Homo sapiens: one gene and its partners. The protein of the gene in region 2 interacts with the protein of the main gene of each other region in a biochemical or structural test. Each region holds a gene or a part of one and is shown on either strand. Other genes may lie near its edges. The genes, in order: CUL3, RHOBTB3 and RAB9A.

Region 1 (8,465 bases), on a different chromosome or scaffold from region 2:
TCAAAACTGTAAGTTTAAAAATGAATATACATGTTTATTACCAGCAAAGTTAAGATAAACATACATGGTCATAAGTGTATTATTTATGGAAAAATTATTATAATGTGTCCTAAATTTTGTTTTTATTTCTAAGGGCTTATTGGATCTGAAGAGTAGGTTCGATCGCTTCCTCCTGGAATCATTCAACAATGACCGTCTCTTTAAACAAACTATTGCGGGTGACTTTGAGTATTTTCTCAACCTCAACTCCAGGTCTCCTGAATACCTCTCATTATTTATTGATGATAAGCTGAAAAAGGGAGTCAAAGGGGTAAGTAGTAATGCATTTGAAAATAACATTTAATTTTATTTAAAGATATAAAATTATATGTAAAATTAGGACATTTCACAGATAAAAATTAAGCATGACCCATTGCTGTGCTTAAATGGGTGCCATGGTCTATTAAAAAATATTGTTTGAAATACTTGACATGCCCAAACGTAGTTAGACATTTCACTTAATGTGTAATTGGCTTCAAAAACAAGCAACTGGATGGGCTTGGTGGCTCATGCCTATAATCCCAGCATTTGGGGAGGCCAAGACAGGAGGCTCTCTTGAGGCCAGGAGTTTGAAATTAGCCTTGTTAACTTAGTGAGACTCCATCTCTACAAAAAAAAAGAAAAAAGAAAAAAATTAGTGGCACACAGTGGTATACACCTGTTGTCCCAGAAGCTGAGGCAGAGGATCACTTGAGCTCAGGAGTTCAAGGCTGCAGTGAGCTGTGATCGCGTGACTGCACTCTATGCTGGGCGACAGAGCAAGACCTTGTCTCAAAAAAACTGAACAACTGTCCAGGTATGGTGGCTCATGCCTGTAATCTCAGCACTTTGGGAGGCCGAGGTGGGCAGACCACCTGAGGTTGGGAGTTTGAGACCAGCCTGACCAACTTGGTGAAACCCCATCTCTACTAAAAATACAAAATTAGCTGGGCATGGTGGTGGATGCCTGTAATCCCAGCTACTCAGGAGGCTGAGGCAGGAGAATCACTTGAACCCAGGAGGCGGAGGTTGCAGTGAGCCAAGATGACGCCACTGCACTCCAGCTGGGGCAACAATAGCGAAACTCCGTCTCAAAAAAAAAAAAAAAACTGAACAACTACACAGCTGTAGTTGGTAAACAGTCATTTTTATGACTGAGAGTTAGGCATGCTGAAGATAAAGAACTAGAAAACTTTCTAGTAGAGAGTGTTGTTTGCTCTCATCTGGTTCTGAAGGTTATATGTCAAACAATAATTGGATGCCAAGAATATTAAGGCATAGATAGAGTAGATCTCATCTCAGAAAATGGTTGGTGTAGCTCAATTTCAAGCCTTTGTGATATATGATATCTCTGGAACCTGAGGAGCTCACGACAGCATAGAAAATCAACTGAAGCATAAAACATGCTCACATCTGAATTGGTCTCTTTTGACTTCATTTTGGAATTTGTGACACCAAAGGGAAAAGCAACATGTCGTCACAGGTTTTACAGGCAGTAGCTGCAATAAGGGAACAAAATCACTAAGGTTGCACAGAATAGAAAAGTCTATTAATTTATGCATTCATTTGGTCTTCCGTTTTTCAAATATATTAATACAACCTGCCACAGAATCCTTTTGCCCTTATTTAAAAGTAAGGGCAGCCAGGCACAGTGGCTCACGCTTGTAATCCCAGCACTTTGGGAGGCAAAGGCGGCGGATCACCTGAGGTTGGGAGTTCAAGACCAGCCTGACCAATATGGAGGAAACCCATCTCTACTAAAAATACAAAATTAGCCGGGTGTGGTGGTGCATGTCTAATCCCAGCTACTCGGGAGGCTGAGGCAGGAGAATTGCTTGAACCCGGGAAGCAGAGGTTGCGGTGAGCCGAGATGGCGCCATTGCGCTCCAGCCTGGGCAACGAGTGAAACTCCGTCTCAAAAGAAAAAAAAAATAGAAATAAAAAAATAAAGTAAGGGCAATGGCCTTTTTACTGTTTGGATTATAACAAATTATTGCCTTTTGTTTGCACAGTTGAGGCTTTCAGTGAGCTTAAATGAAAAATTCCGTCTTTTGGCTGTGTAAGTTTTTGCCTGCATATGCAAAGGCTTCATAAAATAATCTCTGTGACTAAAATTTCATTTCATCTGTTCTCAATCATCCCTTAACCCAGCGCTATATTACCTTATGCCTCCAATTCAGTGGTAGCCCTCTACGGAATAGAATTCCACTCCAACCCCTCATTCATGATGCACTAAATGAGAATGTAAGAATGATGCTACTGTGTGAAGTAGGAGACACTTTCTCAAACCGTATCCCTTTTTTTGATGTATGTCAACCAGATATCTATGTTTTCAAACAATAGTGTTTTTAAGCTGTAAATGAACCGTAGTACTGCTTTTGTAGAACTAAAATTGTATAATTGTTACATCATCTTAATTTTGCAGCTAACAGAACAAGAAGTAGAAACAATATTGGATAAAGCAATGGTCCTTTTTAGGTTTATGCAAGAAAAAGATGTATTTGAACGTTATTATAAACAACACTTGGCAAGGAGACTTCTCACAAATAAAAGTGTTTCTGATGACTCTGAAAAAAACATGATATCTAAGTTAAAGGTAAGGTGTGTTTTAGATGAAATAGAGTGCACCTAACTGAGGTTTATTATGATTGTGTACTGACAACGTGATTGGAAATTAATTTGGTAGATTATTAAGTGTTTATTTCTAGAAATAAAGGTAGATTGTTTTGGAGAAGAACACAGACTACACTAACATTTGTTCAAGTTCAGGGACATTCAGAGTTTGCTGGAATTTCTGTTGGTGTGTCAGGATACATTCATGGAGGCCTGGAAGGGAGGATTAGTAAAAGGGAAACAATAAAGAGGCTATGCTGTGTAGTTCTTTTTCACAAAGTGTGGTCCATAGAATACTTGCACGTGAATCACCTGAGATGCTAGTTAAAAACAGTTCTGGGCCCTGCCTTTCATGGGGGTATATTGGAATCTCTGAAAGAATCTGGGAATTTGCATTTTAAAATCCTAAAGTTTGATAACCACAGGCACAGAGCAACTGTTGGAAAAATTTACAGGAAGATTATCAGGGATAGCAATAACATGAAATAATTTATTTCTTTCTGTACTTTCTCATAGAAACATCTACCATTTATTTGTGTATATTTGTGTTTTTCCTCCACAGACTGAATGTGGATGTCAGTTCACGTCAAAACTGGAAGGAATGTTTAGGGATATGAGCATCTCAAACACAACGATGGATGAATTCAGGCAACATCTACAGGCAACTGGTGTAAGATTCTGCGTTAATTTCTACTTAGATATTCATGTAAAGTCTTTTGTAATGGGTATATTTTCATCCACTTAGCAGATGACAGTTGTTTCTTTAAATGTCATTAGTGACAACATGTGTTTTATCTGTGAGTACTTAATTTTCCTTCACATTGCCTCTTATTCTGTGTTTATGTTAAAACTTTTTATTCTTTTAAAATTTAGTTGTTTCTTCCCACTTGAAGGAATACACTGACAATTTAATAAAGAGAATTATTCTGTTGTTAATAAAGATAATACAAATCTATTATAAATTGTGGAAAGAGTACTGGGCTTAACACAAGTTTACTGAGTTTCAGTACTCTTCTTTTCACTTTACCCCAAGATTGTGTCATCTTGGGATAGTCACCTGACCTTCCTATACCTCACTACTATTATTCTCCTCTGTAAGTTTAGCTTAAATGGGACTTACATCCTAAGGGTGCGTAGCAGGTGAAGTGAGACTATAAAAACACAGAAATTAATGTATTATAAATGTGTTTGGTATAACTCCCCAAAGGTGGTGAGCTGGAACTTCTTTAGCTTTGGAGTCTGATGGGAGTTTTATGAGCATTTAATGAAATTCAGAATTTAGTTTCATTTTTTACTCTGATTTTCAACTTAACCTTAAGTTTAGAGAATTGTACAGTTTTTAAATTTTTAAAATCACCGTGTACCACTCTATGGTTAAAATGTGTCACAACCATTTAACAGATTTGTGAGTCTTTTCCTTTGGTATCTAAATATGAGATCATCACTTCTACTGGCCTTATAGTCTCGCAAACCAGATACGTGAAAATACGTAATTCTGTAGAATAACCATTCATTTCTATGAAAACATTCTGACTCTAATGTAAATAGTTGTATGATTTGCTTTATAAATATCAGTGTTTACAGTGGAGAAGAGCTGAGAGGAGGAAAGATGCAAGTCCATGACAGAAATTTCGGGTGGACAGGAAATAGTGGTGTAATTATCCTGGATTTTTATTTTTAGATTGTTTAGGAATTTATAGTTAAATCTAATATATTGATATATTTTCTTGTATTTTTTTGTTTGCTCTAGTAAGTTTTTAAATTTTTTTCTTCCACTAATCTTACACATTGAAAGCTATAGGGAAGATTGGGCTAGATCCCATGCATATTGATATGGGATGGATGGACTGTCCACTTTGTGACCCTCCCTTCCCCTAACCAACTTGCGAATGTATAAACAGTTCTCCACCTCCCCCAGTACACCATCTAAGAGTCTCCTCTATGATCCTCTCTTCTGTGCATCATCCAAGTTTATTTTCAGTTTCCTTAAAGTTAAGTAATCATTTAGTGGATACTTGTGAAGAAATCGGAGTGTAGAATGCTTCTTGATATTCATAAACTGATTCCTCCCCTTAAAAATTTACATTACTAAATCATTGAGGTAAGATAAAAATGGAATGATGGTTTATAACACATCCTGAATATCAATAATAGAAATAATATTTAATCTTTAAGAGTTTTTGTTGTGCCTTATTGTTGTTTACTTAAAAATTTAATTTGTTTAAAGGAAGAAAATAATTGTGACAGTTGATACTAGCATAGAAGTAGTTATTCATTGTACAGATATTTGTAGAGCACCTGCTCTGTAGCACTGGATCTATAGTGTTATAGCACTGGATCTGTATGCAGAGGTTGTTAGAATGTGAGCTACATGCTAAAACGTAAAAGTTTTAATTAACTGTAGTTGAAATAGGTGCTGGAATATTAGAAATATGTATTAAGATAGTAAAAATATTTTAAAACTGAGACGAAGGATATTATGCTAGAATTTTCTCTAAAATGATATAATTGACCCTCCTTGACCTTTTATTTAAAAAGGCCCAAACTTTTCAGTTCTCAGTGATAACAGTAAGACTTGATTTATGTGCCAAAAACTATTCTTTGGTCAGTGTTTTTAAATTAACATAATAAGCAATAATTAAGCTATTTGCCATGTAGTTAAAATTTGGGAAACACTGGGTGGGTCTAACCTTTAAGGAAATCTGTTTTTTTGCCGGGTGCGATGTCTCACGCCTATAGTCCCAGCACTTTGGGAGGCTGAGACGGGCAGATCATCTGAGGTCAGGAGTTCGAGACCAGCCTGACCAACATGGAGAAACCCCGTCTCTACTAAAAATACAAAATCAGCCAGGCGTGGTGGGCATGCCTGTAATCCCAGCTACTCGGGAAGCTGAGGCAGGAGAATCGTTTGAACCTGGGAGGCGGAGGTTGCAGTGAGCCGAGATCGTGCCATTGCATTCCGGCCTGGGCAACGAGCGAAACTCTGTCTCAAAAAAAAAAAAAAAAAGAAAAGAAAATCTGCTTTTTTTTAAATTAGATATTAGACATGGAGCTAACTGCTTTGGTAAATCTAACACAATGTCTAAACAGAACAGAAAGCAAATCCTAGTTAATTTTGAGGGGAATATCTCTTTCTGTTTTACATAGGTATCTTTAGGTGGTGTTGATCTTACAGTCCGGGTGCTCACGACAGGATATTGGCCCACTCAGTCAGCCACACCAAAGTGCAACATCCCACCAGCACCAAGACATGCTTTTGAGATATTCAGAAGGTAAATCAAAATCAGACTTTGTATCACTGTGTACAAGTAAGTGTTCAAAATTAAAAATGAATTTGAACATTAGTATCCGTAATTGAGGATGAATGTATTCCATTTATTACCTCGTGATCAAAAGGAGCATTTATCCTGGCATACAGCAATTTCCCCCTCTATAGGATCTTGATGAGTAAAGTAAAGCAGGCATAATTTATCTCTAGAAAGATTGTTTATATGCTGGCATTTGAAATGCCTTTTATTTAGAGCAGCAGTAAAAATGGAAAAAGAGAAAGTAAATGATGATGGAAAACTAGACCCAGAGAATTCCTTGGACTTTTCTGAACACTTCAGCTAACTCCAATTGTTGGAAATACGTGGATACCTTATTCCCACTAGTACTCAGAGTCTCTGAGATGGCAGTTTTGATGAGGAAGAGGAGCAAGATGAAAAAAAAACAAGAGTGATATGCAAGAAAAAAACAGAGAAAGATCCAAGCAAATATTTTTTTTGGGCTGCTGAAAATAATTGGCTTATCCAGTGTGGAGACTGCTTTGTGAAAAGACCACTCGTGTGAACACTAGGGATGAAGATGAGTGTATCACCCCCTTCATCGAGCAGCCTAAGGTGGACACTTAGACATTGTCTGTGAGCTGATTGCACAAGGGGCAGAAGTTTTTGCAGTGACCGTAGATAGCTGGACACCCCTGCAGGGTGCTTATAAGTGGAATAATACCAGAGTGGCTTCTTTATTTCTTCAGCATGGTGTAGATTAGTTATCAGTGACCAAACAAAAGGTCTCTTGACCCACTTGCATCTTGCTGCTGGGATCAGAGACAGCAGAGCTACTCTAGAACATCTACTGGTGAACTGTTAACCTCAAACCAGATCTGAAAAAACAACTGGGAAGAAACTGTATTTGATATTGCCAGGAGGACAAGTATCTGTCACGACCTCTTTGAAATTGTGGAAGGCACTGTACAAATTCTTCACCTTAGTCTTAATGATTCTAGTAATTGTCTTAAGTGTCCAAGTACCAGTGCCTTCTTTGTGTGAGATGTAAAATATTCCCATAGTAAAAGGTTGACATCAAACATCTTACTACAAAAAATTCATTGGTACTTATTAAGATGTTCTTCCAGGTGAATTGCCTGACCTTGATGTCAAAATGTATTTGAAAGTTGTTTGAATATATCTTGAATGATTTCTGTGGAGTTTGTGATTTGTATCAGAAATAATTTCGACTTGCCTACACTTAAAAACTTGACGTGGGTTGTACAGAAACTAAAGATATTTTTGGTGCTGATCCAGGAGATACGTATTTTTAAATAGCCCATATCCTGGATCTTTGTTGAGTATTCAGCATATTGACATGTATCTTTGTAAGGTGAAGTAACTAAGAATTTAACTTAAAAAGCCTCGAACATTCTGGTGCTATTCCTGCTGTCTTCTCTACATTACCATAGCCAGTTGCTTTCATTTTGAACCAGAAGCACTAGCATATTATTGACTTGTAGCTTCATAAATTAAAAAAATAAAAACTAGATTTTGTCTTTTAGAACATAGGCCATTTTCCAGGAAAGCAGCTAGGTTTTAATCCATTAATCTTGTATACTGTCTCCACCACCACAATTCACATAATCCTGTAGACAGTCCTGCTTCACCCTGGTCAACTGCATGATCCTTATTGTAATAGTGAATCAGTATAACACTTTAGACATGCACACAGATAACACGCTGTTGCAAGAGTTCATGATATGTCTGCTGTCCAACTAGTTTTATTTGCCTGATCCTACTGGTTTAGGCACTGCCTATAGTCTCGAGTTCACAGAAATGTTGGGTTTTTTCCCTCCCCAAAGTCCTCATTTTTTATAAACTGTAGAAAGGCAAAATGACAAGGGAAAAGGAATTCTAAGAGTGAAGGGATGATTGTTATATTGGGGCAAGAACCACAGAGTGGCTCAGGCTTTGGAAAAAATATGGTGTGGATAGTGACAAAAAACATAAATATAAAAATTCAAGAAAAACTACCAGTTTTGAACAACAAAAACAAAGGGAGAGTTTATCCTTTATAATTTTAATATGTAAGAAAAAATTACATAAACTTTTCCCAGAGGAATATTTTATAAATGTGCATTGAGTATTTTTCGTACTGTGGTATAGGAGTATATTTTGTACTGTTGATGTCTGCTACTGACTTAGAACAAATTGATTATTGGGTTACTATGGAGAAAGGTGGTCTTAAGAACAGCAAGGGCTGAGCAGCAGTAGGTTGGGGCAGAGTGTACAGTAGAAATTATTTAGTGTGGGGCCTTTGTCATTTAATATCTAGCTGAGTTACTTAGGACTCTCTCAAGGTCTTGCCTATAGAAAGTTGAAACTGAACTTGATTCCTAAAGTTTCCTTTAAGTTTTAAAGTCCATACACACACACACACACACACAAATGTTTAAGGGATGTTATCCTGTAGTTTGTAATTTCAAATGTGTAAGTTTGTTTGATTTTCTAAAACCTGGTTTGATTTACTGAAGGTTCTACTTAGCCAAACACAGTGGTCGACAGCTCACACTCCAGCATCAT
Region 2 (7,991 bases):
TTTCTGTTTTGAAAAGAAAACTTTATGTTCTTTGTTCTTAGATTTGAGACATAAGTTGTAGAAGTAGTACTTTTAGCAAAATAAGAATAGTCAATGTAATAAATTTCTTGTAAATTATGCAGTGTGGTAATTGAGGAAACAATTTATAGTCACCTGTGTTACATAAGTGCCTTAACCTGTGTTACACAAGAAGTTTTCTAATGATTATTTTATAGCTCCATCCGTTTTTAAATGCATTTTCTTTCCCTGAAATAGATAAGGTGACAAAATGTGTCCTCAGGTGACATTTGGTTGTGAAAAGTGATATCTTAGTTCTAACTACCTAAGTCAGCAGCAAAGTTTAAACAGTACAGATTTAAAAATTTTTTATAAAGGAATTTAACTCTTGTTAACTATATTATATTTAGCTTTATTGTACTGGATATCTGTATTTACTGAGTATACCTATATGGGAGTCCCTTATATTACTTTGGAATAACAGTTTTTCATATATAAAAAATGTTGTGAAACTTACTGGGAGTGTATGTAATATGCTTTCTAAGGTAAATTATAAAAATTAAAACCAAAGTGTGAACTACTGAGTACTGCATAAAAAGAAAAAAATGAAAATATAATAGTTGTCAGAATAGACAGTTTAGATGCAGTGGTTTGCTCATGTTATTATCTAGCATAGACTCAAGGAAAATTTGAGCTAAAAAGAAAAGGAAGTGAAAGATTACCTGATCAAGGAGTTTCACAATCTGGACAAATAAATCTCCGTGGAGATAACTGAAGTGTCTTCTAGGGTGGGGGACAGAAAGTAGGGAGTGGGTGAGGAGAAGGAGAGAGAGAGGGAGTAAGGGAAAGGGAAAGAGAAGGCTAAAATTTACAGTTCTTGGACTCTTCCCTCCCTCCTTCAGTCATAGTAGTTCCACTTTATCTGTTTCATATCTTGAGTTCTACCTAAAATTTTACTTCGTAAAAAAGACTCTGCTGGTAAAAGATATAAAAATCATATGGTCAAGATGGTGATTCCACCTCGGTGTAATCCCAGCCAACTTGGGAGGCTGAGGCTGAAGGATCACTTGAACCCAGGAGTTTGAGTCCAGCCTGAGCAACATAACGAGACTTCTGTCTCTAAAAGAAAAAAGAGTAAAAATCTCTTGTTTTTATTCAGCTACTTGTGCAGTTAAAGAAAACCCAGGAACACACAATCCGTTTTTGGGAGATGTATTCAGCCAGTCAACAAACATTATATGTCTATTAGGAGCCTCCTTATATAAGTCAACTATTAGTACAGTAGAGAAGCATAATCACATCAAAACAAAACAACAGTTATTTATTAGCTATGTACTTTGTGCAAGGAAAAAACAGTCAGTTCATAAAGATAAGGCTTGTGTATGCTTGCTGTCAGAAGGAACATTCTTCTATAGTTATTTAAGTAGCTGCTTCTATAGTTATTTAAGAAGCTTGCTAAAAGTTAAATGAATTGCACTTTGGTCCTGGAGCCAGTTTCATTATGTTACCTGAGGTCACTCTTATTTGTAAGAGAAGAATAAGATTATTTTCTACTTACTATCTTGTATAGATATATGGTATATATGGAGTACTATTACAACCTTGGGAGAAGGATGGTCTATAAATCCTTTTAGTTATGAATTTTCATTATATGGTATTACCCAATTACCTATAAAGTATGTTATGACACCTGGCATGGTGCAAAGCAGGACTTCCAGTGCGATGTGAGGTGGCAGGCTAAGGAGGAAACGATGTGTCGATGTTGCCTTCTGTTCCTTTGATGGGAATTAAAAGGGAATCATGAGAACTCTCATTCTGCAGTGCCTCTTCCTGTCCAGGGTCCTGCTATGAGGTGTCATCCTCTTGGGCAGAGGAAAAAAGCGCCTTTTGGATAAGGGAGAATTTAATTGTCTAAATCAATAGTTACTAACTGGCCATCTATGGTTTAGGTGTAGCCTGCCAACGTGTTTTATTGGGACCCCACAGTTAAAAATATATAGTACTGGTATTTAAAAATAACCATATTTTGGCTTCTTTTGAAAAATTGGAAGATCTGGCTACCCCAGGCCCATCATCCTAGTGGCAACATGTGGCTTGGCGCTGACGGCCCACCTAAAGGAGCATGCCCTCTCCAGAGGGTCGCAGTCACTTCTCTCCAGTGCTTTACACCTGGCCCACTGCACATGGTCACCTGAAGTTGGGAAAGTTTCTTGTCACGGTCACTCTACAGCTTCCTTATAGAACTGTCCATCTTCAGCTTGAAAAGTTCTCAAATTATTATTGGAATTCTACAACTTGTTTTCTGTTGACTGAGAATTTTTCATTTTTAGAGGTGTTTAGAAATCAAAAAGTGAGACTGGAAAAGATGTCATGTCAGTACAGGCACAGATACATCAGAACCCAGTTAAATAGGTCATTAAGTATTAGATTTTTATATACTGGACTCATGAACACAAACAGCGGTGCACAGGAATATGTTACCCTTGGCATTTATGGATTCATTATTCTCGCAGTTTAATTTAGCTCGATATTATGTGTTCTGTGTTATGGGGTTTTGTTTGTTTTGTTTTGCTGGCTGCCAGAGCTCATCTCTAATAACTTTTCTCTGGTTTTTAATATTTACTGAGGGAGTAGTCTCATGTCACCTTTGCTTCCTCTTGAAACTTAGAGCTGAGCAGCTAGTTTGTATGGTCCTGCAGGCTGAATCAAGACCCTGTTAATCTGACTTATAATAGATGAGGTTAAACAGTAGATGGAGAATCAAGTAATTCTCCTGCCTCATCCTCCTCAGTAGCTGGGATTATAGGCATGTGCCGCCACACCCAGCTAATTTTTCTTTTCTTTTCTTTTTTTTTTTTAGTAGAGACGGGGTTTTGCCATGTTGGCCAGGCTGGTGTCAAACTCCTGACCTCAAATAATCCGCCCGCCTCGGCCTCCCAAAGTGGTGGGATTACAGACATGAGCCATCGTGCCTGGCCTCCAGCAAGGTCTTTATGATCTATATCTTGAGTCGACCTCCTATCTCATTCTGTAACCTAGAATGCCTAACTGTCTGGGAATGCAGCCCAGTAGGTTTCAGCCTCATTGTCCCCAGCCCCTATTCAAGATGCAGTTGCTCTAGTTCAAATGCCTCTGACAGTTGTGCTTCACCAAACCTAGAGAATGAACAAAGCGAAGGACCTGGAGTTCAAGAATGGAGGGATCCAACTCCAAGGCAGGAAGCAGGTCCAGAAAGCAGGCAGGGCAGCAGCAACAGGGAAGAACAGCTTATCTGATGACTGGCTGGGTGGGAAGCACAACTGAGAGGACTTGAAGGACTTTGGAAGACTAAGTTAGCTACAAAGAAAACTAAGTATTATACCAAAAAAACTTATCCGGGCGTGGTGACAGGCGCCTGTAGTCCCAGCTACTCGGGAGGCTGAGGCAGGAGAATGGCGTGAACCCGGAAGGCAGAGCTTGCAGTGAGTCCAGATTGCGCCACTGCGCTCCAGCCTGGGCGACAGAGCAAGACTCCGTCTCAGAAAAAAAAAAAAAAGAAAAGAAAAGAAAAGAAAAGAAAAGAAAACTAAGTATTATAAATGGAAAAAAAAAATAAGTCCGTTATATCCAGGAAAAACAAAAGCTTTATTGGAAAAGAAAAGGAAGCCAGGCGTGGTGGCTCATGCCTGTAATCCTAGCACTTTGGGAGTCCAAGGCAGGCAGATCACGAGGTCAGGAGATCGAGACCATCCTGGCCAACAAGGTAAAACCCCGTCTCTACTAAAAATACAAAAAATTAGCTGGGCGTGGTGTCACACGCCTGTAGTCCCAACTACTCGGGAGGCTGAGGCAGGAGAATTGCTTGAACTGGGGAGGCAGAGGTTGCAGTGAGCTGAGATCACGCCACTGCACTCCAGCCTGGGCGACAGAATGAGACTCCATCTCAAAAAAAAAAAAAAAAGAAAAGGAAAATAATGAAATACTACTCGAAGTAGTGGACAAGATATATATAATTGTAAGTCACATAATAACTTAAATCCTGATACTAATTTAACCAAAATGGTAGTAAATTATTTGGGAAAACTTGTGGGAATGGTAGGAGATGTATCACAGAGCTGGATCTCATCTATTAAAGAGGAAATCAATAGCTGATATCTTAATTGATCCATAATAAAACATATTCGGTTAACAGTCTTTTTCTTAAAACTTCAGTGGAAGAACGCAGTTTTGTTGAAAAGCACAGATGGCCGTCGAATATGTACTTGAAGCAGCTTGCGGAATACAGGAAGTATATTCACTCCCGGAAATGTCGTTGCTTAGTAATGTAACCTGGAGCTTTTATACACTACATTTCTTTTTTATTATTATGAAGAATGGGATACCTCCAGGTTCCAGTAAAATTCTTCTGACCGAAACCAATGTGGGTGTTAGAAAAATTACCATATAGCTTAATATGTTTATTAGTTCTCTTTGGAAAAAAACTACCACTGTGGTCTTAAAAGGGAACAAAATATACCATAGGCTAAAACTAAGGCTTTCACTCTAGAATGCAAAGCTGTTTTGCAGCTGTTTTCCCTTAAAGATGTCCTGTTGCTTTAGTGATATTTAGACCCCTCTCAGTTAAGAAATGCTTAGATTAAAAAAAAAAAATTACGTAGGATTAATACAGAAATTTAATCATGTCTGATTAATTGCTCTATTAAAATAAGGGGCATTTAAAGACCCAGCATAACCATTTGTATAATGAGAAATCTAGGGGAAAACCAATCAGTCCAACATGAGATTTTAGGAATAGAAATTTGCCGGCCATTTGGAAAGTGAAATGCCACTTAGTTCTCAATTGATGACAGTGTTTGAATCATCATAAAAAAAATACCTGCTTTTCATCTGGACAACCCAATTGAGCCACTTTATCTCCTTTTGGCAATCTGAGTAGGCGGGGAACCTAGGCAGGGCTGGCTTTCTTAGCGTGTAACTTGTGTAGCAGCACAGGGCCCACACTTAGAAGGACCCCACACTTGGTTCAAGGCTCTGCTATAGCGGAAATTCTTAATAATGTTTGAAGAAGGGCCCCATGATTTCATTTTGTGCTGAGCCCTCAAAATTATGTCTGTTTCGTGGTGGGAAATATCCTATGTTTTCTTGCTCAAACACCTTTCTCTCTGAAAGCAGAAAAAGGCACTGATATAAAGGGAAGAGAAGGAGGCTCACCGGAGGGAAGAGAACATAGTGAAGATTCCCGCCTTTGGGGAGGTCTGGACCACCCAGGGCCTCCACTGCCACCTTGGCTGGCAAGGGAGAAATGTGTTGTGTTGTCTTAGCTTTAAAACAGTCACAGTTCTTGCTCTATCATAGATGAACAAATACTTTCTTGATCATTCTGTAAGACCAGGAGGTTGGTAAGAGTGACTAACCAGCCTAACTTTAATACACATGTATAAAGATGTTCACAGAGAAAGATGCTCTGTAGAGAATTTGCTACCGAAGTTGGCTCAAGAATTTGTTTTTAGTGTTATTTACCAAGATTAGGACGTCAGTGGCTTAAATTCTTTGAATTCTTTTCAAGGACTGCAAGATTATTTGATAAAGAGTAGCATGAATCTTGTGCTCTAATATTACACAGTAAGTTCAAAGAAAGGATGTAAGTCAAAGACTTGTTACATAGAGGGAAAATGGACTGGGATAGAGGACAGACTGATAGTTTCTTTCTTTCATATCACATGTATAGAGAAATAATTATATCAGAAACTCACAAACCTAGACATGGAAAAACAGATTACTGTCTATTGTCAGCATCATTTTCATCTGTAAGTCACTACTGGAATATATTTTTCTTTTAATTTCCAGTGACTTTAGAATACACACAGTTTTTCCGACTTTTCAAAAATTTGATTAAATGGTTTTATAGTATAATATTGGGACCCCATACCGTTAGCCCTTGTATGTATACCAACACTGCCAAAGTAAAACATTAGGTCAGGCATGGTGGCTCAGGCCTGTAATCCCAGCATTTTGGGAGGCTGAGGCAAGTGGATAACTTGAGGTCATGAGTTCGAAACCAGCCTGGCCAAAACAGTGAAACCCCGTCTCTACTAAAAATACAAAATTAGCCAGATGTGGTGGCGCACACCTGTAATCCCAGCTACTCAGGAAGCTGAGGCAGGAAAATCGCTTGAACCTGGGAGGTGGAAGTTGCAGTGAGCCGAGATCGCACCACTGCACTCCAGCCTGGGTGACAAGAGCGAAACTCCATCTCAAAAAAAAAAAAAAAACCAAAGTGAAACACTAAAAATTCCCTATAGATATATTCCAGGAAATATTTTAATTGGGCTGATTTTAATTAGGCTGTATCATTGATGATTACTGGAATCGATTTTATGTCTTTTGTATTTTAATCACTTGAGTTAATCAACCACTGGCAAATCCCATTTGACAAAGATTAGCATTGTAAAAAACAGATACTGTGGTAGATTTCTAGAAATTCATTCACATTTAAGACTTCTAAAATGGAATAATAGCCTTTTGTTTTTCATGAGCATATTCGCACCCCTATATGAATTACAGCATTTAAAGTTCAAAATCAGTAACTTTTAATCTAGGAAATTGAAAAATATTAAGTTGCAAAGCAAAAAAAGGTATTTTCTTGAAAATACTATTTAATGTTTAACTAGACTATAGGTAGTTCCTTAAGGTTGTTTGACCTGAAGTGGAGTTGGGTTTGGAAGCTGGTGCCCAGTTGGTGTGGAGTGTGTAGTTTTGTTATGAAAGTTCTCTACCACCTACCTGTGTGAGTGACACCAACATCCAGATGTCACAGCTCTCCAGAGCTAGTCAGAAGAGAAATCAAATTAGTGTTTAAACCCATTTGCATATTGACTTGTCAGTACCTTTAACTCAATTTAATATAACAAGAAATCGTAAAATACTTATAACCTATCTTAGAGAAATGAGTGCTGGTTTTGAGAGTTGTTTTTTAACTGAAAGATTATTTCTAGATGGGTAGTGCTTTGTGCTGGTTTCTGCTTCCATATATTTCCCAGTCATTTTAATTAGAGAAGATACTCTATGGTAGAACTAAGGCCTTTCCTTTCTTGGCCAAAGTCTTTACCCTATTTAACCCTTTGTATATTTCTGACTGCTCACTGTTCATATTATAGGGGACCAGATTTGTAATATAGAATTCTCCATAACATGAATGAAATTAATTCTGTCCAAGCCAGCATGGTGGCTTCATATTAAGTAGTAACAGAAGTCTGAACAATTGGATAAATTTGACTTCCAAGACAGCTAAACTTTTCAACTGCAATTTTAAAAACTACACTACACTGTTATAGTTAATCTGACAAAAATGTCCTCAAAGAGTACTTTATTTTATTTAAAGCATCTGTTTAATTCAACCTTTAATAATTTTGCAAAGAAGGGTATGTGTGTATTTTAATATAGCCTGACCTGAATTTATATGTTTTTAGCTTTAGTATTTAACTTTTTGTAACAAATAAACCTTTTTTAAAACAAGTTTAACGAAGTGTCCTGTAATTATTTTACCTTGGATGTTGAAATACTGAAATGATTTGGAGAATGCTGCCTTGTATTTCTCAAGCATAATTATGCTTCATAGATAATTTTCATTATGTGTAAAATATCTAGAATGTTGCTGATACTATAGCTGACTAATATGTGTGGTGAGATAAAGAAATTTATATTATCTTTAAAAGTCAAGACCAGAATTTATCTCAGCAAAATAACTGCCTTTATTTAGAAAAATGCTTTGATAATTAAACATAGAAGTGAGCCCCTTGTAGGCTTGAGTGTTGTCTGGGACCAAGGCTTGGGAAGTGGAGAAGCTGCTCTGATAATAGATGGAAAAGAATTTGGAACTTCCCAGGGCTGAGGAGCCCAGGTAGGGAGGGGAAAGAGACAAGGCAGCCATACCATGAGAATGGATGGTGCATGGAATGATGCAGTCCCTCCCCAGCAGGTTCCCAAATTTTCAGTAAAGCCTACTAAACTCATGA
Region 3 (8,465 bases), on a different chromosome or scaffold from region 2:
CAAAATGTCACTAGTGCCACGGTTGAGAAACCCTCCTTTTCAGCAGTCCAAGTAACCCCAGAGCTTACATTTCAACTGCTTTTGTAGTTTTTCAAATGCAATGTCGTTTTCCTATTTGGGATACCTCATCATTTTAACAGTGAGCAGGGGAAAATTCTCTCTACTGAGAAGCATATTCACTTGAAAGATTAAAGAGTGAGTGGCTGGGCACGGTGGCTCACGCCTGTAATCCCAGCACTTTGGGAGGCCGAGGTGGGCGGATCACGAGGTCAGGAGTTTGAAACCAGCCTGGCCAACATGGTGAAACTCCGTTTCTACTAAAAATACAAAAATTAGCCAGGCGTGGTGGCGGATGCCCGTAATCCCAGCTACTCAGGAGGCTGAGGCAGGAGAATCGCTTGAACCTGGGAGGCAGAGGTTGCAGTGAGCCGAGATCACGCCATTGCGCTCCAGCCTGGGCAACAGAATGAGACTCCATCTCAAAAAAAAAAAAAAAAAAAAAAAAAAAAGACCAAATAATTTCTGGTAGCAGAATCTGTTTTTTGTTGTAAGGCAAAAATGACAAAAAGAACTTTAGAGCTATTCAGAGCCATTAAAGTGGACTTAGAAAGTTTAGTTTCTGCATTATTTCAGTTGTCTGAGCAGCCTGTGGGGCACTGATACAAAGGTGCTGATGAGAAGGGCGGTGGGGAGTCCCAACCTTCCTGAAGCTTACAGTCCAATCACAGTCATAAGATTAGGTTCTGACATCATCCTAGAACAGAATTTATTGCCTGGGCTACTCAAGGACAGGGGCCAGGTGTTCATTAAAAAAAAGCAAAACAGGAAAAAAAAGCAAAACAGGCTGAGTGTGGTGGCTCATGCCTGTAATCTCAGCGCTTTGGGAGACCCACACAGGAGGATCACTTGAGCCCAGAAGTTTGAGACCAGCCTGGGCAACATAGTGAGACCCCCGTCTCTACAAAAAATAAATTAAAAAAAAAATTAGCCTAGCTCAGTGTGGTGGTGCATGTCCCAGCTACTCTGGAGGCTGAGGCAGAAGGACGACTTGAGCCCTGGAGTTCAAGGCTGCAGTGAGTCATGATCACACCACTGCATTCCAGCCTGGGCGATAGAGTGAGACCTTGTCGCTAAAAAAATAACAATAATTAAAGAAAACAACTCCACACTCGGCACAGAAGTACCTGTGTCATGGTGTTTACTGTGGGCAGACTTAAATAAAATGGGGAAAACTTGATGTGTGTGTTATAGTTTTGTACGGTTAACCACGTGTGAATATTTACAAGAATCAAATTGAGAAGCCATTCTTGTTGAGCATAAAATTCATCCTTAAATTTCACCTCACCAGACAAATAGTTATGCCTGCATTTTATCACTGGAATCGAGAAAGAAATGATGAATTTTTTAATGGCTTTTCCATAACTTTCTGGTGTTTTCTGGTCTCTTTTTCATGCCTGTCTAAGATCAGGCCTTTCAAAATATGTACTGCTTCATTCTGGTGGCAGTATTAACTGTTAGGTGAACTTTGGGAGGGAGTGGTTGACTGGAGCAGTCAAAAAGGATCGCATCTCTTTTTAGGCATCACTGAGTGTTATTCACGCAATCAACATGGCATCTTTTTGTCGGTAGCTTTGGTTTTTGACTCATGCCAATGCACAGCACGTTCTTTGCTGATGAATAGATTTCTCTGCCTCTTATCAGGAGTTGTCTGCTGTGGGGTAGGGAGGATGTTGAGTTACACACCTCAAAATGATTGCTAGTGCATACACATGGAATCTAACAAAAGTGACGTGTTTTATTCTGGGAAAGGTCGAGATAAATTGGTGCTAGAGTTGTCTTGTTTGATCATTAATTGGCTTGCTCCTCCAGCCAACTTAGGTCACCACATTTCCTTCTGGGTAAAATGAGATGGCTGTGCTTCATAATCTCTAGGAGATTATATGTCACAAAGTAGAGGCAGCAAATTATTAGCTTCCAAGTAGTTCTGCCCAGGCAATGTGTTAAGCAGCAGGAGGAGGAAGTAAGCCAAATGGAAGTGTGTGTGTGTTTGGGCAACGCATCTAACTTGAAAGGTGTATAGATAATAGACTCTTCAGTCAGAACCAAGCATAAGAGAATAGGATTTGTGACTAAGTAGGCCATCAACAGAGAACATTTATTAAGGACTTTTTTGTAGAGGAGTGAGGGTGAACTCAAAAAATGTTTCAGGGAGTTTGGTGGAAAGCTATGATGCAATTGGAAGGCGAGGATGCCTGAGGGAGGAGACGTGGAGCCACCTAGGTGTGTAGGCAGAGGGGAGGGAGGTCGGAGGCGGTCCCAGGCCGTGTTGCCAGAGAGCCCAGGGGTGCCAGGGCTAGTTAGATAACTTGGAGGAGAAATCTCTGTTTCTCACCATGACTCTTGGTACTGTGCATGTTGTGAAGCTGTGTGCTCTGGGTATTTCCACATTCTGGATTTTTCAAATCCTTTTGTTAATTTTTGACCATGGTGAGTTCAGGCGTTGTTATTATGTTGCTTATTATGAATACAGTGAGGATGACTAGGTGTAAATGAATGTAAGGTAACAGCTAGATCTGCCTGAGGTGGAGAGAGACTGGGTGTGTATTTTGGAAAAAAAATGGAGAAGTGAAACAGGCTGTTCAGGCTTCACATTCTGGCTGCATGGAAGCCAGCTCATTGCATTCTCCAGGAGTTCTCTGGGAGTCTGTGGACACAGACTCCACTTTTGTCTTAGGCCTGACTCGTACAAACATATTCTGTTGTTTGACAGGGGATGGAGAAACACTATAGAACAACTGGACACATTCATTTCATTGCCACATTCTTTATTCAAGTGTGACAGAGAGCAAAACAGTATAAAGGAGTTGAACTGACTACTGTATTTTAATTTCAAGTTCCTGTGAATTGGATTAGATTTTTGGGTACAGAAGCTAAGGTAATTTCCAAAAGGTTAGTGCCCATAAGACTGTCTATGTTCTCAGAGTTAGAAAAACCTGGGAAAAAAAAAAGCCTTACAGACCTCTGTTTCTACAACTTGCTGTGCAGAACTCTAACAGATAGGAGTGTTTATGCAGCTAGGTGACTGCTCTGGTCTGTGCAGTTTCACACCTGTGTATTTGATCAGATGTATATACCTGGAAATACATACATAATGTGGTTGGAAGTCAGATTAGAACTGCCTGAGGACTACCCATTGGTGAATGCAGAACATTCTTTGGAATGAGTGCTAGTATTCTTAAATAACATTTAAAAATAGTTGTTTGGGAGCAAACAGTTGCCACCCTCATAATCCACTTTAATTTGTGCCCAGTACTTGATTTTTATCACAGCAGTCCTGGAAAACCTAGCTTCATGAAGATATGATGTCATCGAAAGGAATGCAGTGCAATCTAATTAACTCCCCTCCAGTGGGGTGCCCTACAAATGTCAAGTATCTATGTTTCCCTCAGAAATTTAAAATAGCCCACCCTGCCCTTGTGAATTTGCCGTGATGCTTTGGGGCACCTCAGCATGCAGTTTGGGAACCTCAGGATTAGAAGTTGGTATTATTGGCTCTAGTTTATGGACTACAAGGTATAGTGGTGAGGAGAAAAGGCATCAAAGTCCGTTTTTAATTCTCCATCCCCCCTTCCAGTATCTGTAAGCTTTTCCCTTGGGCCCCTCATTTCCCCCAGAGCTTTGCAGTTTTGGGATGCTACCCTTTTAGTTGCTAAGCTGAGGGGAGGGACAGACAGGAAAGAGACTGCAGTTCAGGTTTCCTGTGCAAATCGTCCCTCCAGCTCCACTTTCCTTTGTGCTTTCTCTCCATTTTCTGCTGGGTGCAATTCCTTAGGAAGTGGGTCTGCTAGGGTAGCACAGGGATGTGGGTCATGGAATCTACAGCCTTTCAGGGACCCCTCGAGCCTCCGGACCCGGCCTGTCTGGAGAAGTCTCGAGAAGTGCCCGTGTGCTGTTCAGTTCTTTTCCAGTTCTCTGGTGGGAATCAGCTTTCTCATTGTTGGCTGCTGCTTTCCGCATTAGGTTTCATTGTCTCTTCACTCTGTCACTCCCGGACCATTTGCTTTCCACTTTCTAAATTTTGTTGCTGTCTTGCATCTACAGTTGTTCTTTCTTGGTGTCCTTTTTGGATTTGTACCTTACGTAGACCTTTTCTGTCACTGGGTGGGAGTGAAGATAACACATACTTGACCTGCCCTATTTAGTTAGACCTGGGGAAGTTTGTGGACTTCTGTTTATTGATCTATAAAACATGGATGATAGTGTCCAACTTGCAGGTAATTTTAAGGTGCTATATGCCAGGTACCTAGTAGATATTCAGTTAATAGTGGCTGCTAATATAATTACAGCCATAGCATTTATTATTTGAGCAAGCAAGGCAATAGCAATAGGTAGTGCGAAAAGTGGACATATTTCATGTGTGGCTGAATGAAGTGCGTAAGAGAAAAGAAAGAGATTTTCGAAATGGAGAAAATAATTAGCTCAGTTTTAGATATGTTGAATTTGAACTACCATCAGGGTACCAGATGAACATACTATACAAGGGGTTGCAAATTCTTGTCTGGCTCAGACATGCGGATGTAGACTTTAGGAATCACTGGTTTTTATAGCCCAGGGAGATACCATCTGGAAACAGGTAAGGGTTTCAGTCTCGTGAAATAGCTTCATGAAGAGCTTGTCAGGAAAGGGAGCTGTCTATGTTGAAGAAAGCTAAGGGGCCAAGGAGGAGAGAAAGCAGAACCTATTATCAGAGTGGTTTTATGGACAATTAGGAAACATTTTCAAGAGGATTACTGCCAGGCTGTTTGGACCTGATAGAAGCAGTAATGGGTGGTAAGTCCTGGCTCAGACTTGAAGGTCTCCCCTGTGCCTCTAGCTAGATGTGTGATCCTGTGTAAGACACTTTCCCAGTTAGACCTGTTTCCTTATTTGTTTTTAAAAAACACTTGAGGCCAGGCACGGTGGCTCACACCTGTAATCCTAGCACTTTGGGAGGCCAAGGAGGGAGGCTTGCTTGAGCCCAGGAGTTCAAGACCAGCCTGGGCAAGATGGTGAAACCTTGTCATTACAAAAAAAAAAAAAAAATTAAAAAAAAAATTAGCCAGTCTTGGTGGTATGCACCTGTAGTCCCAGCTACTCTGGAGGCTGAAATGGGAGGATCACTTGAGCCCGGGAGTTTGAGGCTGCAGTGAGCTATGATCATGCCACTGCCCTCCAGCCTGGGTGGTAGAGAAAGACTCTGTCTTTTAAAAAAAGAAAAAAGACTTGGGTACCCTTCCAAGATTTTAGTTCATGCACATTCAGACAGATGGCTACACCTGAGAGAATTCACTATATACTAGCTGGGCCTCAGGTGGAGATGCTGGTCAAACTTGCAGGTGTTTTCTAGAAACATACACAATGAAGTCCTGAGAGAAGAACTTTTCCCTGTATTCACCTTAGGGTTGTATGTGCCGTAGGGCATTCAGATGAGGACTGAGAAAAAGCCATTGGATTGGCCATTAGGAGGTCTTTGGTGACTTTTGCTGACAATCAGGGGGAAAGGATGGGGTGGGAGCCCTGGTGTCCTATAAACTGAGCAGAGAGTTAATCAGGTTTGCAGGCACATTGAGAAATGGGTAGTGATGGGCAGAGTGAGGTTGGGCTTGGAAAGCTTTTTGTGAGAAAAGTCAGTTTCAACACTTCGATAGGGGCAGACCTGGGGGGATCATTGACAAAGTGACAGTTACATTGGATAAACTGAACTTGATGAAGAGCTGCCTGCAGTGTTGAGCTGGTGACAACTTCCCTGCAGAGTGGTATTTGGGAGCCTCTAGTCTAGTCGAGTCCTATATACCGGACATAGCTGCCCCTCTTTAAATATATCTTCTTAGGAAATCCTCACTCCTTGTAATTAACTTCTCTAACAGTCGAGAAGTTTCCTTTTGCTGTGGCTCCATGCCTTGTGGAGCCCCTCACTCAGTGAGTTTGTATAGTTCCCCAACCCCTAGCTTTGTCTGCTGTAAATTAAAGACATTTGGTTTCTTATCGAACTGGAAGGGAGGCCTCAGAACCAATGTTTCTTTAGGTGATAGCAGAACGTTGCAGATCATTTTTGATTTGTGTTTTGCTGCTTTAATATATTTTTCTGACATATATGTTCAAATTCATTCCTTTCATAATTTGTTTTTCTTCCTGAAATATCTACCTTTAATTCCCCATGTTCTCATCTTGTGACTTTTATCTATGTCTTTGCATTTTAATTCTGTCTTCCAAAGTGCACTCTATTGTCAAAAAGTATTGTAAGTACCTTTTACAGGTAAGTGTCATCGCAGGTAGATTTATGCTTGGTTCTTAAAACTTAAGCAAAACAAAAAAAAATTATTCTCACTTCTCAGGACTAGCAGTTTCCCATGAGTAAGGCTGTTCACTGAACTATCACAGTTTATGGTCAAAGTGTGATATTCATAAAAGTCTCATGGGTGAGGGAGAAAAAGAGGAAATTCTGCTAAAGACAGAAACTCTTGAAGGGTGTTATGAGCTACAGAAATGGATCACACATAACATACAAATGATGCAGGCATGTAGCAATCAGTTCTTGGTGTCCAAACTCCTTAAGATCTGATGAAACATTTTTTGTTCTTTCCAGAAAAAAAGCGCAAGCACACAAGCTTCCACCAATGCTCTCATCCTTATTTCACATGTGATTCTAGGGAGTGTATTTTCTCCCTGAAGCTCATTTCATGGACTCCCAATTAACCACACTCTAGGCCTGCACTGTCCAACACAGTTCCCACTAGCCTCATGTAGCAATTTAAACTAGTTAAAATTAAATGAAAAATTCAGTTCTTCAGTTAGACCAGCTACTTTCCAGTGCTCAGTAGCCACATGTGATTAGTGGCTACCATATTGGACAGTGCAGATTATAGAACATTGTCGTCATTGCAGAAGGGTCTGTTGGATTTTGCTGCACTATATAGTTTCATGATGGTTTAAGATTTAGTTCCTTAACTAAGTCTTCTTTTTCTTTTTTTTCTTTTTTTTTTTTTTTTTTTTTTTGGCCCTTCTCACTTCCTCCTTTCCCACTCCCCCCACCACTGTTAGTGATTAGTTAACATACCTACAGAGGTGCCTTGTTTTAAGAAAAATGTTAACATATTTCTTAAAAGTTAAGTTAGCTGATTCAGCTTCAAAAAAAGTTACTTAATTGAAATAAGTTCTTTCAATAGGGGAGGTGCTCTGACATAGCGATAGTATGGTTTGATAATACAGTTTTTCTCCTCTAGCTGCCTCCTGTTCTTGAGGTAATGCTCAGTGATTAACTAGATAGGACTAGATAATTTATTTCACCTTGGCAGGTCTTGCCTCCAAGTTGGCCTATTCCTATGGTATTTCCTTTTCTTTCTTTTGCTTCTTCCTGCACACTAAGTATGGTATTTTCTGACAGTATTTTTCTTAATTCTTTATTTATTTTTCTTGGTAATTTCTTGCTGTAGAGCTGGTACCCATTAGACATAATGACTTTCCTTGACTTGCTTCTTGCTCATAAATTTCTGTAAGACAATCAGGAAGTTTTTAGAAACAAACAGTGGAACCAATTAGGCTGTTAAGTGAGACACGCCTAAATTAAGCTATGAGGAAATAAATACAGCTCCAGCAAAAATAGAAATAATTTTCAGATTATCCATGCTTTTGTTTCCCTGGTTTTCTTTGAACCTCATTTCCTCAAGCTATGAAGTGAAATGAAGTGGTAAGTACACCTCTAAGTAGGACATTCAGGGTGAATCCAAAGGAACTTGTGAATTTGACCAAAAAAAAAAAAAAAATCTGTTCCTAAATTTAAACCAGGAGTGATAAATTCATTTTAAGTTTTTGGAGGGGTTACAGAGTATGTGTTTTAAAATCTCAAGTTTTGAGAAGGCAGTTTACAAATGATGCCTGCTCTCCCTTTGGCAGCTTATTAAGGAATGTAGTCGTTTTTCAGCATTTGCCAGCTCCCTGTCGCAGTCAGTCAATAGTACTTATTTTAAAGTGGGATTCTCATTGGGATTGCAAGTAAGAATCAATGTTTTTGTTCCTACCCACACATTTTAATAGACCTCAAAAATAGAATGCGGGGAGAACTGATAGAGAAACAAAGAATTTTAGGTACAGAAAGCACAAATAGAATAATAATAGAATAACAAGAATAAAAGAGGAAGTAATATACTCTTCGTTCTCAATGTAGCATTTATTTGCACCTCACCAAATGTAGAGCATTGTACGAGAAGTGGCAGAACAAAAAAGGGACAAGTGAATGGATGCAATTAGGTGTTGTGTGTCCCTCCCAGGGAGTTGACATTGTAATTAGGAAACAGACACATACACAACTGAAGGTGATTAGAGCATAAGTAAATGAGAGCTGTAAAGAGGTGGAAATGATGAGAGCAAAGAAAAGAGAAAGATTAGGTTGCTGGGGCGGTCCTGGCTTCCTACATGAGGTAATCTGG

What was found.
Region 1: the proteins of RHOBTB3 (region 2) and CUL3 form a complex in vitro, tested with the Homo sapiens proteins (one study listed by BioGRID).
Region 3: the proteins of RHOBTB3 (region 2) and RAB9A form a complex in vitro, tested with the Homo sapiens proteins (one study listed by BioGRID).

The regions. Positions count from the first base shown.
Region 1 is NC_000002.12:224,497,801-224,506,265, reverse strand, and holds part of CUL3 (cullin-3), read left to right. Parts: intron 1-133; coding exon 134-310; intron 311-2,443; coding exon 2,444-2,614; intron 2,615-3,193; coding exon 3,194-3,301; intron 3,302-5,778; coding exon 5,779-5,903; intron 5,904-6,048; exon of another isoform or gene 6,049-7,086; intron 7,087-8,416; coding exon 8,417-8,465. UniProt on the Homo sapiens protein: Core component of multiple cullin-RING-based BCR (BTB-CUL3-RBX1) E3 ubiquitin-protein ligase complexes which mediate the ubiquitination and subsequent proteasomal degradation of target proteins.
Region 2 is NC_000005.10:95,788,871-95,796,861, forward strand, and holds the end of RHOBTB3 (rho-related BTB domain-containing protein 3), read left to right. Parts: intron 1-4,188; coding exon 4,189-4,304; 3' UTR 4,305-7,491; downstream 7,492-7,991. UniProt on the Homo sapiens protein: Rab9-regulated ATPase required for endosome to Golgi transport. Involved in transport vesicle docking at the Golgi complex, possibly by participating in release M6PRBP1/TIP47 from vesicles to permit their efficient docking and fusion at the Golgi.
Region 3 is NC_000023.11:13,691,179-13,699,643, forward strand, and holds part of RAB9A (ras-related protein Rab-9A), read left to right. Parts: intron 1-8,465. UniProt on the Homo sapiens protein: The small GTPases Rab are key regulators of intracellular membrane trafficking, from the formation of transport vesicles to their fusion with membranes.